Regions from separate parts of the Homo sapiens genome. Here region 1 is linked to region 2. Evidence: fine-mapped expression QTL. A gene starts in region 2. The other region holds a variant in brackets. All regions are shown on one strand. Distances are from middle to middle. Region 1 overlaps SMIM35 (small integral membrane protein 35). Region 2 holds the start of IL10RA (interleukin 10 receptor subunit alpha).

Region 1 (5,375 bases), 58 kb before region 2:
GGCTACTGATAAATTATTGAAGAGCTGCCAACACTCTATGCTGTTCTAGAAAATTTCACTCTAAGTGAAGGAAAATAACTTATTGAATATCTACCATGTGTCAGGAGCCATATAACTCTCCTTTCACATACACGTCTCACTTAATCTTCACGTTAACCTTGTGAAGTTAATATTTTAATCCCCATTTCAACATAAGAGAGGATTAAAACTCAATCTTGCCCAGAGTAATGATATTTTAGCTTCCAGATGGCCTGGCTCCAAGTCTTTTTCCGTCATCACACACTGCTAAAGCAAATATCCCGATGGTCAAGAGTTAAAAAGATCTGCCTGAAATCTGCTGTCTGTTCATTCATTATACTGGGTTGAAAGATTCAGAGCTGTACATTATCAGAGAGAGAGTGAAGGTAAAGTTTAGAGAGCAGTAAACAAACCAATGGGTCTAGTTTCAAACAGGAGATACTTGATTTTTTATTGTTATGTGATTGGTTTGTTTTCTTCAGCAATATTATTCATCACACAAATATTTCTATTGCAAAAGATGAAAATCATGTGAAATTGATGATACCTGTTTTTGACCTTTAAAAATGACAATTTTATATGGTTCAAGCTAATACTAAGGCAAAACTTGAAAGGCTCTTTTTACTTCTACTCCCTACCCCACTCCCCTGGTTCTTCATAAACCCTATCATCACCTGCTTTACACCTGCCCTGACTTGCCTTAATCATAGGGAGAACCGCAACTTGGTGACAGCCTTTCTCTCTCTCTAGTGTGTGTGTGTGTGTGTGTGTGTGTGTGTGCATGTGTGTATACCATAACTAGAATTATGTGATATCTATTCTTCTGCAACTTGAACTGATCTTTAAAACGTGGAATTGATGAGCAACAGATGAGCAACAAAGGAGGAATTCTTGATTCCAGCTGGAGAAAAGTGTAGGCTCCATAAAACCTGATGTATTGAGGGTGAGGGGGCCTAGAAGCCAATGGAGATGAAAATGTTCCATTTTTCTTGCCAAACCTGGACCTTGGGCAATATCATCTCCACATCTGCCTCCACCATTGATCCTAATAGTAAAGCCTAGGGCCTCCCACTAGGGTCTGTTGTACTTAGGTTTTGAGTTTTAGAACTTCCTTCTGATTTTGTTTGATGTGTTGCTAATCTTCCAGGGGGTTGTGCTGCTTGCTTCTTCATTTTTTGTTTTGTTTTGTTTTAAAGTTCCTTGTCAGTATAATCTAAAAGCTAGAGATGTCCAATCACCTGCTGGAGGTTTCTTCTAAGTGATCAAACTAGGAGGTTTTTTGTTTGTTTGTTTGTTTTGTTTTTTTTTTAGTAGAATGAACTTTTTTTTTTTTTTTTTGGAGATGGAGTCTCACTCTTGCCCAGGCTAAAGTACAGTGGTGCAGTCTCGGCTCACTGCAACCTCTGCCTCATGGGTTCAAGCAACTCTCCTGCCTCAGCCTCCGGAGTAGCTGGAATTACAGGTGCCCGCCACCACGCCTGGCTAATTTTTGTATTTTTAGTAAAGACAGGGTTTCACTGACCTCAAGTGATCTGCCCACCCTCAGCCTCCCAAAATGCTGGGATTACAGGCATGAATCACCGCACCCATCCTAGAAGGAACTTTAAATGGGAGTTGGAGGGGCATCTGGAGAGAAATCATGATTTAGATGGGCGGTGGGATGACCATTTGCAAGATCTCCTGGCTTTAGGTCAGTTCATCCAAATGGCTTGGTAAATAGTAAGGTGCATAATGCCACCATTACCTTCATGCTGCTTGGCACGTACTCACGGCTGCATTTTTTTTTTTTTTTTTTCAATTCTGCCAGACTTCTCAGTGACTAAGATTTGGTTTCTGGAATATGAGTAGATGGATAGATAAGTACAATTAGGGTAGATTCTTACCTAAGTGTAAGGATCTTGATACCTCTGCTTTTTGCATGGGTTTTGAGTGTTACATATCTGCAGGAAACCTGGATTATAGAAAATGCATTTCAATGCACTTCTTCAAGTTTAAGGATTTAGGAACTCCTTCTCTCCAGGGGATAATTTAGACAGAGATAAATATAGGTTGGCATTTTATCGCTTTTTTAACAGCTTTGTTTAGATATAATTCACATAACATACAATTCTCCCATTAGAAGTATATAATTTAATGTTTTTAATATATTCATGCATATCTGCAGCCACCATTACAGTCAATTTTAGAACATTTTCATCGCCTAAAAAAAAAACCCATACCCTTTAGCTAAGATAACCCCCTCCTTTTCTCCCCACTTCCCCTGGCCCCCCCATAA[C/T]CTACTTTCTTTTTCTTTTCCTTTTTTTTTTTTGAGATGGAGTTTCTCTCTGTCGCCCAGGCTGGAATGCAGTGGTGCGATCTTGGCTCACTCCACCTCCCGGGTTCAAGCGATTCTCCTGCCTCAGCCTCCCGAGTAGCTGGGACTACAGGCGCCCACCACCACGCCCAGTTAATTTTTTGTATTTTTAGTAGAGACAGGGTGTCACTGTGTTAGCCAGGGTGGTCTTGAAATCCTGACCTCGTGTTCGGCCCGCCTCAGCCTCCCAAAGTGCTGGAATTACAGGTGTGAGTCACTGCGCCCAGCCTCTACTTTCTTTCTCTATAGATTTTCCTCTATAGATTTTCTGGATATTTTGTATAAATAGAATCATATAATATGTGGACTTCTGTGACTGGCTTTTTTCACTTAGCATAATGTTTTTGAGGTTCATTCAAGTGGCATGTATCAATACTTCATTTCTTTATATGACCGAATATTCTGTTATATGGATATACCACATTCTGTTTATACATTTGTCTGTGGATTCCTTAAGATTTTCTTTAAAAAAAAAAAAATGTTTTACCAAATACCCAGACTTCAAGGAGGAGGATTTTCCATATGTAAGACTGTGTTATCTGTGAACAGAGATATTTTCATTTCTTCCTTTCCAATCTGGATACCTTCTATTGCTTTTTCTTGACTATTTCCCTGGCTAGAACCTCCAGTACAATGTTGAACAGAAGTGGTGAGACCAGACATCTTCGTCGTGTTACTGATCCTAGGAAGAAAACATCTGCCTTTTACCATTTAGCATGATTGCTGTGGGTTTCTCATAAAGGCTCTTTGTCAGGTTGAGGAAGTTCTCTTCTGTTCCTAGTTTGTTGAGTGTTTTTATCATGAAAGAGTGTTTGATTTTGTCAAATGCTTTTTTTGCATCTATTGAGATCATCATGTGATTTAAAAAATTCTACTGGTACGATGTGTTACAAGAATTGATTTTCAGATGCTGAACTAATCTTGCTCTCGAGGGAGAAATCCAGCTTGGTTATGATGTATACTTATTTTTAGATACTGCTGGAATTGGTTTGCTAGTATTTTGTTGAGGATTCTTTATTCTTTTTCCACATACAATCATTCCTAATTGTTGAGGATTTTTGCGTCCATATTCATAAGAGATATTTTTTCTCTGGTTTTCTTTTCTTGTGATGTCCTTGTCTGGTTTTGACATCAGGGTAATATTTGCCTTATAAAATGAGTTGGGAAGTGTTTAGCCTCTTCTATTTTTTGGAAGAGTTTGTGAATAACTGATATTAATTCTTCTTTAAATGTTTGGCAGAATCAGTGGGAAAGCTAATTAGGCTTGGGTTTTTCTTGTGGGTATTATTTTTTATTGCTAGTTCAGCCTCTTTATTTGTTATACTTATTCAGATCATCTGTTTCTTCTTGAGTCAGTTTTGGTGGTTTGTGTATTTCTAGGAATCTGTCTATTTCATCTAAGTTATCTATTTTGTTGGTGTACAACTGTTCATTGTATTTCTTATTATGTTTGTTTCTGTAACGTTGACAACAATGTCCCCTCTTTCATTTCTGATTCTAGTAATTTGAGTCTTTTTTTTTCTTGGTTAACTTAGCTAAAGGTTTGTCAGTTTTGTTGATCTTATGCCAATTTTTTGTTTGTTAGTGTTCTCTATTGTTTATTTTCTATTTTATTAGTTTCCACTCTAAGCTTTATTTCCTTTCTTCTGCTTGCTGTAGTTGAGTTTGTCTTTCTTTCTCTCTCTCTCTTTTTTTTTTTTTTCATTTGTGACAGAGTCTCACTCTGTTGCCCAGGCTGGAGAGCAGTGGTGCAATCTTGGCTCACTGCAACCTCCACCTCCCAGGTTCAAGCTATTCTCCTGCTTCAGCCTCCCGAGTAGCTAGGATTACAGGCATCTGCCACCATGCCCAGCTAATTTTTGTATTTTTAGTAGGGACAGGGTTTCACCATGTTGGCCAGGCTGGTCTTGAACTCCCAACCTCAAGTGATCCACCGACTTCGGCCTCCCAAAGTGCTGGGGTTACAGGCATGATCCACTGTGCCCGGCCTGTGTTTCTTTCTCTAGCGTCTTAGAAGATTAACTGGAAGATTAGGCCATTGATGTGAGATCTTCCTTCATTCCTAAAGTAGGCATTTACAAATATAAATTTTTCTCTGATCATTGCATCCCACAAGTTTTGGTGTACCGGGTCTTTATTTTCATTCATCTCCAAGTTTTTTAAATTTCCCTTTTGATTTATTCCTTGATCCATTGGTTATAGGTCGTATTTAGGAGTGTGTTGTTTAATTTCCACATATTTGTAGAATTATTCCCATTTATTTTGCTATTGATTTCTAATTTTATTTCATTGTGGTCAGAGAATATACTTTGTATTATTTTTATTCTTTAAATTTTATTGAGGTTTGTTTTACGGCTTGGCATATGGTCTATCCAGGGGATGTTTTATGTACACTTGAATGCATATTTTGTTGTTGAGTGGAGTGTTTTACAGATGTCTGTTAGGTGTAGTTGGTCCGTAGTGTTGTTCAAATCTTCTATTTCCTTGATCTTCTATTGAGTTATTCTATCCAATATTAAAAGTGGAATTTTGAAGCTTTCACTTATTATTGTTGAGTTTTCTATTTCTCCCTTCATTTCTGCCAGTTTTTGCTTCATGTATTTTGATGCTTAATGTTTTAATTATTTTTTCACTATTTTTAAGTGGTTACTCTAGGATTTACCATGTACATCTTAGCTTACCAGAGGTCACTTCAGATAGCTTAATACCAGTGATGTATAGAAATATTACTCCTATGTAGCTCTAGTCTCTTCTCCTCTTTTGTGTATTATTGTTATATATGGTATACATTATATATTATTATATTATGCAATATATTTTTGTTATACATATGTCACATCTATTAATGTTACAAACTCAGCAATATATTGTTATAATTATTAGTTTATCAACTACAGTCATGTCCTTTGCTTATACTGCTTTGCTCCCATCCACCCCTTAGTGCTATTATTAACAAAAATATTACATTTGTATATGTTATAGGCCTAACCTTACATTATGTATT
Region 2 (5,371 bases):
GAGGGGGGGCAGGCATTGATGACCCCAATTTTACCAAAGAAGAAAGGGAGGTTCAGAGAGGCTATGACTCGCCCGAGGCCAGCGGAGCCCGTAAGGGGCAGAGTGGGCACATGAATCCACATGTGTCTGATTCTAGAGCTAGTGTGTCTCCCTAAATCACTGCCCTGTGCTCTCTGTGATCAGAAGCTGCAGTGGGGGCTGAGAAGAGCCAAGCTGAGTCTGATGCCTACCAGGGAAGAAGGCAGGGGCCGAGGGCTAAGCAAGTTGGCAATGAGCTCTCAGATGTGTTAGTCCCTGGCTCTGCCCAATCCCTGTCCCTGCTCTAGCACTATTCCTAGGCTTGGCCCCATCCACACACCTGATCCCCACCCTGGCTTGGCCCAGGCTCCAGCTCAAAGCCACCTCACTAAGTACACAGACAGCCTGCTTGCTGACATCTGCCTCCTTCTCTTCATAGGTCTCCTGGGCTCCCCAAGCTAAGTGCTTGCCTCATTCCCTAGTTTCTGGGAGGGCTTTGCCTATAGCCAGATGTCCAACCTCTGGCTGGGCAAGGACAGATGGAATAAATCAGCTCTGGCTCTACACATGGCTGAGGACATCCCCACAAGAGCTGGCACCTGTAGCTCCGAGGAGAGATACTCAATACCAATTCCTAGCTCTACTCTCCCTTTACCCCCAGTACACACCATTCACCATGGGAAACACTGCTGAAGGCATTGTCTTCTTTGTAAGAATGCAACAAACATTTCTACTTTAAGAGTCTTGTTGATCAAGCAGACTGAAGTATGTGCAAGGCCAACGGCTGGTTGGTTCCCTTTCTCTCCTCCTTGATCCTCTAAGTTCTCTCCATTTGACAGCGACTCTGCTCCCGCTCCCTAGTGTTCTAACTTCTCTACATCTCTCTAATCATGCACCTGTTTTTTATTTATTTTTTGGGGGGGAGGACTCTGTCATCTGTCTCTTGCTTTCTTTCTTATACCGTCTTTGATCTTCACGTCAGTGCCTTGATTTCGAAACATTAGACGGAAAGTGAAAAATGCAGCGAGTCGTTGTGGTATTTGGGCTGCACATCTCCGACTCAGCTCTCGATCACGTGAATGGCTGACTGCATGTTTTACTTTGTATTTTGGTGTCATGAAGAAGCAGTTTCGGTCCTTGCTCTCTGTCTCTGCTCTTGGTCCTTCCAACTCCCGGCTCTTTCATTCTGTCTCTGGGGTTTACTTTTCTTAGTTGCAGAAACCTTGCCGGAGAACTGTCTGGGTTAGGAGCCTGAACTGGGTTAGAAGCCTGAACTGGCTGGGTTAGGAGGAGAGAGGCAGGGGGCAGTGGGAGTGAGTTGGGGGCTACAGGTGGAGCAAGGGGGATCAGATCGGGGTGATCAGTGAGGGATGAAGGTGAGATGGGAGAAGGACAGACAGAGGTTAGTTGAAGAGTCGACTAAGAGAAGGGAGAGTCAGGAGATCAAAATTATTCCCCAAGGGGACAAGAAGTCCCATCATTTGAACCTAAACAGCAAAAAACCTAGAGCTAAACTTACGGCTCATCTAGAAGTGGGTGGATGATGAGGTTTGCGGGTTGGGGGTTTGGCCTTGCGCATACTTCTCTATCCTTCCCAATCCGTCAGTTCCTGTCAATTTCAGCCTCTTCCACTTCCACAACAGGTGAGCCTGAGATCCAGGTTTGCCAGAGTAAGGGAGCACCCGGGCACCGCTCTGCCAGAGGGCCAGCCAGCCAGGGCTCTCCACTGGATGGAGAACTTTAATGGAGCGGGCGCGGAGAGGGCAGGGCAGGGAAGGGCCGCGTCCCGGAGCCTTACCATGAGCGTCTGAGCCAAGACGGAGGCTGAGGAGCGCCGCCAGCAGCACTACGAGGCACGGCAGCATCCTGGGCGCGCCGCATCGTCCGGGGCCGGAGCGGAGCCGGCCTGCGCGCCTCCAGCTACCCTTGGGCTGGGACTGACAGCTCCGCCGCCCGCTCCGCCAGCGCCCCGCAGGGCTGACGTCAGCGGGGCGAGGCCTACAGACGCCCCGCCCCCGAGGCCGCGGACGGGGAACCACTGTCCCACAGGGCTACCGCCTGGGGCAACCCGAGGCTGTCCTGGGGCGCTAGCGGGCTCCGGCCACCCCTCCCTTTCCTTCCCTCTGGGCCTCCAGTGCCTTCGGATCAAAGTGGTCCGGGTAGCCCGGCCGGCCGTGGGTACGTGTGTGTGGGTGTGTGCGCGCGCGCGTGTGTGCATGTGCTGGGAAGCAGGTGGCCAGGCACAGCCTCGGCCCTGAGTGCGGAAGGTGGGGTGAGGGCGTCCGAGCCGCTTTTGCCTGGCGTGCCGGCTTGGCGTTAAGGATGTGGCCGCGGCCGCTCCGAATGGGGAGGAGGTAGTTGCAGGCCCTTGAGGGCAAAGGCGCCAGGACGCCGGTGTGAGTCTTGGCGTTGCCCCAGGGCCTCCCCGTCTGGGGGTCTGAGGACACCGATGGATGAATACTGAGTAGTCCCCTACCTAATTGTTGGAGGGGGGTCCACAACTAAGCAGTTTATGCAGACCTGCCCCCAAAGTCCCAGGAAGCTGAGAGACCCAAGAAAGAGGCTTTTAACCAGCAGCTCAGCAGCTGAGCCTCAAACCGCGATTTTTAAAATTTTTTTATCTATTTTTTTTTTTTACAGTCTCGCTCTGTCGCCCAAGCTGGAATGCAGTGGCGTGATCTCGGATCACTGCAACCTTCGTCTCCCAGGTTCAAGCGATTCTCCTGCCTCAGCCTTCCGAGTAGCTGGCATTACAGGCATGTGCCACCACGCCTGGGCTAATTTTTGTATTTTTAGTAGAGACGGGGTTTCACCATGTTGGCCAGGCTGGTCTCGAACTCCTGACCTCAGGTGATCCACCCGCCTCAGCCTCCCAAAGTGCTGGGATTACAGGGGTGAGCCACCGCGCCCAGCCTTAAACCGTGTTTTAAACTTAGTTTCTCTTCTTTCCTTTTTTCTCTTCCTCCTCTGGGCCTCAAGATATAATTTTGAGACAAACTGCATGTATGTTACCTCTCATCTTAAAACACAGCCTCAGGACGTGCTGTGACCTCCACTCCCTTTCCTGTCCCATACTGTACTCCCATGCCTTACGCACGTTTATTTACCTACGTGCTTGTTAAGCACACGCTATGCTCTTACCTGGTCATATATTTCCTTAGATGCCTCAGGAGCTGCGTCCTGATAGGGACCAGGCACCTCCGGAATTCTCTCTCCAACAAAAGCTTACTTCAGGAGTTGAACATATACCCTGCTGAAGAGTAACTAATTTATAACCTGGCAGGATCCACGATTGCACCAGCCCCTCCACCAAATAAGACGATAATTAAAGAGGACCACTGGAGCAAGTCACACCACCTGGTACCTCCTAACCTCCCCCTTGCCTTTTCTGCATTTCAGATCCTTTCTTAAAAAACCCCTGCGTTCCCCCCATGAATTGAAGAGTGGAATTGTTTGCTGCTCTTCCCCTGCTAGCATGGCAGCTAGCAGATTTTCCTTTATTATCCATTCTTTCTACAAGCAGAGAGCAGCCAGATCCTTTTGCAGGTTACAGGCTGACACATCCAGTTTCTTCGAAAAAAACATTTAATAAGGACTTATAAACAGAAGCTACGTTTGTGTCTCCATGATTCACCCCCAGGACCAGGGCTTATAGACCACAGGGGAAGGGTGATTCAGAAAAGATGTGTAGGACAGTTGAAGTATGATAACATCAAGGTTGTTTGACCTAAGGGCCGGATTTACAGTAAGTGTTTGCACTTACACAAGGAGCAATTGATAAATTGGGAATCTCAGAGGTCTTCTGGGAGGCTCCAAAGCCAACACGGCCAAAACTGTGGATTAGCATCCAACATGGAGTTGCTTTAGCCTCCATAAGGACTTCTCCCAGTCTCTTCTGGGTTTCCCTTGCTTGCTTGAAATCTGATATTCAGACCAATTTTTGTGTTGGGTAATAGCACTACTGGAGTGCTGGGTAACACCTCAGCACATCCTCAGTCTCTCGCACCTCTGTGTCACTTGGCTCATCTGAGGCCATCTCCAGGTGAACCAAATATGTGAGGATATGAGAGACAGACTGTCCATCACTTTTTCTTGGAGGCTGACACCTGCTTCAAAGTGTGTGTGTGTGTGTGTGTGTGTGTGTGTGTGTGTGTGTGCACTTGCAGTCATATATGATTTGCAGTGGCCAGTCTGTGGATTTGGATTTCATTGTGGTGTGGAGAACGTTGTCTGTTTGCCAAGTGCATATGTGTGTTTGGGACTGTGTGTGCATCCCTCAAGCCCTGCCCTTGTTCTCAGACAAACCAAAGAAGAGGGGCTCAGGACATTTCTGGCCAGCAAGGCCCCACTCCAGGCCTGCTGCCCCACCCACCCGGCCATACCCCGCCCTGCCTGTATTGTAGTTTGTACCTTCATTTGTTCCTGAGCTCTTGTCCTGTGTTCAAGAAGAATGAGAATTCGCTGACAGTTGAAGGGTGAGGATGGGCAGAGAATAATTTTATTGAGTGATGGACCAGCTCTCAGCAGAGAGGGGATGGGGAGGGGGGTGGTTCCCCGCTCCCACAGTTGGGTGTTTTTTTTTCTCAGTGTGGCTGGATCCAGGGCTTTTTCTGGACTCAGAATAGGGAGTGCATGCCGATTGGTTTGTGAGTATGCAAAAAAGGTTAAAGTGAAAATACCACTCAAAGGTGGGTACGACAGTGTAGAAAACCAATTAGGAAAGGGTAGGTGTATGTAAAGTAGGTGAAGGGTGGGGATCAATCAGAGGAAAGCGTGCCAAATGGGAAGACAGGTTCTCAATCTGGTCTGAAGATTTAACTTGCAGCTTGGCTTTCAGGTTTTAAGTTGTCTTCAACTTGGAGGTGGGGTTTCACCAGGGACCCGCCCTATCTGCCTAGGCATTTGACTGCCTCCTGTAACTATCACCTGCTCCTGGGAGGTTTCCCTGGCAGTGCCCAATGCCCACATGGAGGGCCTTATTTACTGCAGCTTTTGAGAAAGGGCCCCTAACTTAGGTGTGTGACACCAGCACTGTGCGTGGTCTAGGAGTTAGTGAGGCATTATCCCCATGGTTTGTGGAGATATAAACCCTATTTCAATATTTTCAGAGCGGAAATCTCTCTGCCCAGTGGCCTGGACTGAAAGTGTGCCAGGTTGGCTGGGGGTGGGAGTTGGGAGATCCCATCCTGTATCTAAGAGTCTACATTGGGACTAGAAAGACCTCACTCTTGACGATAGTCAGCGAAGGCAGGGGTGCCTCAGCTACATGGATGGGGGAGAGTGATATCTGCAGGCCTACCAGGACACATCATCAGCCTGGGCCACCCTCAGGAGACAGCTCTTGTTGCCACAC

The links. PIP is the estimated chance that this variant, and not a neighbour inherited with it, causes the effect.
Region 1: its variant is the best candidate, but not a certain one, in a credible set for the expression of IL10RA in whole blood (TOPMed, PIP 0.52).

What each region holds. Positions count from the first base shown.
Region 1 is chr11:118,040,754-118,046,128 of GRCh38, reverse strand. The region is part of intron 1 of SMIM35 (small integral membrane protein 35); the gene reads left to right. Among named protein-coding and RNA genes, the nearest start is that of TMPRSS4, 34 kb to the left of the region's middle. The variant C/T (reference allele first, on the strand shown) is at 2,294.
Region 2 is chr11:117,982,980-117,988,350 of GRCh38, reverse strand. IL10RA (interleukin 10 receptor subunit alpha) reads right to left here and starts at 1,957. Exons shown (of 7, transcript NM_001558.4): 1 at 1,817-1,957. The coding sequence starts at 1,883. RefSeq lists enhancers at 780-1,079, 2,470-2,529 and silencers at 1,880-2,159, 2,180-2,279.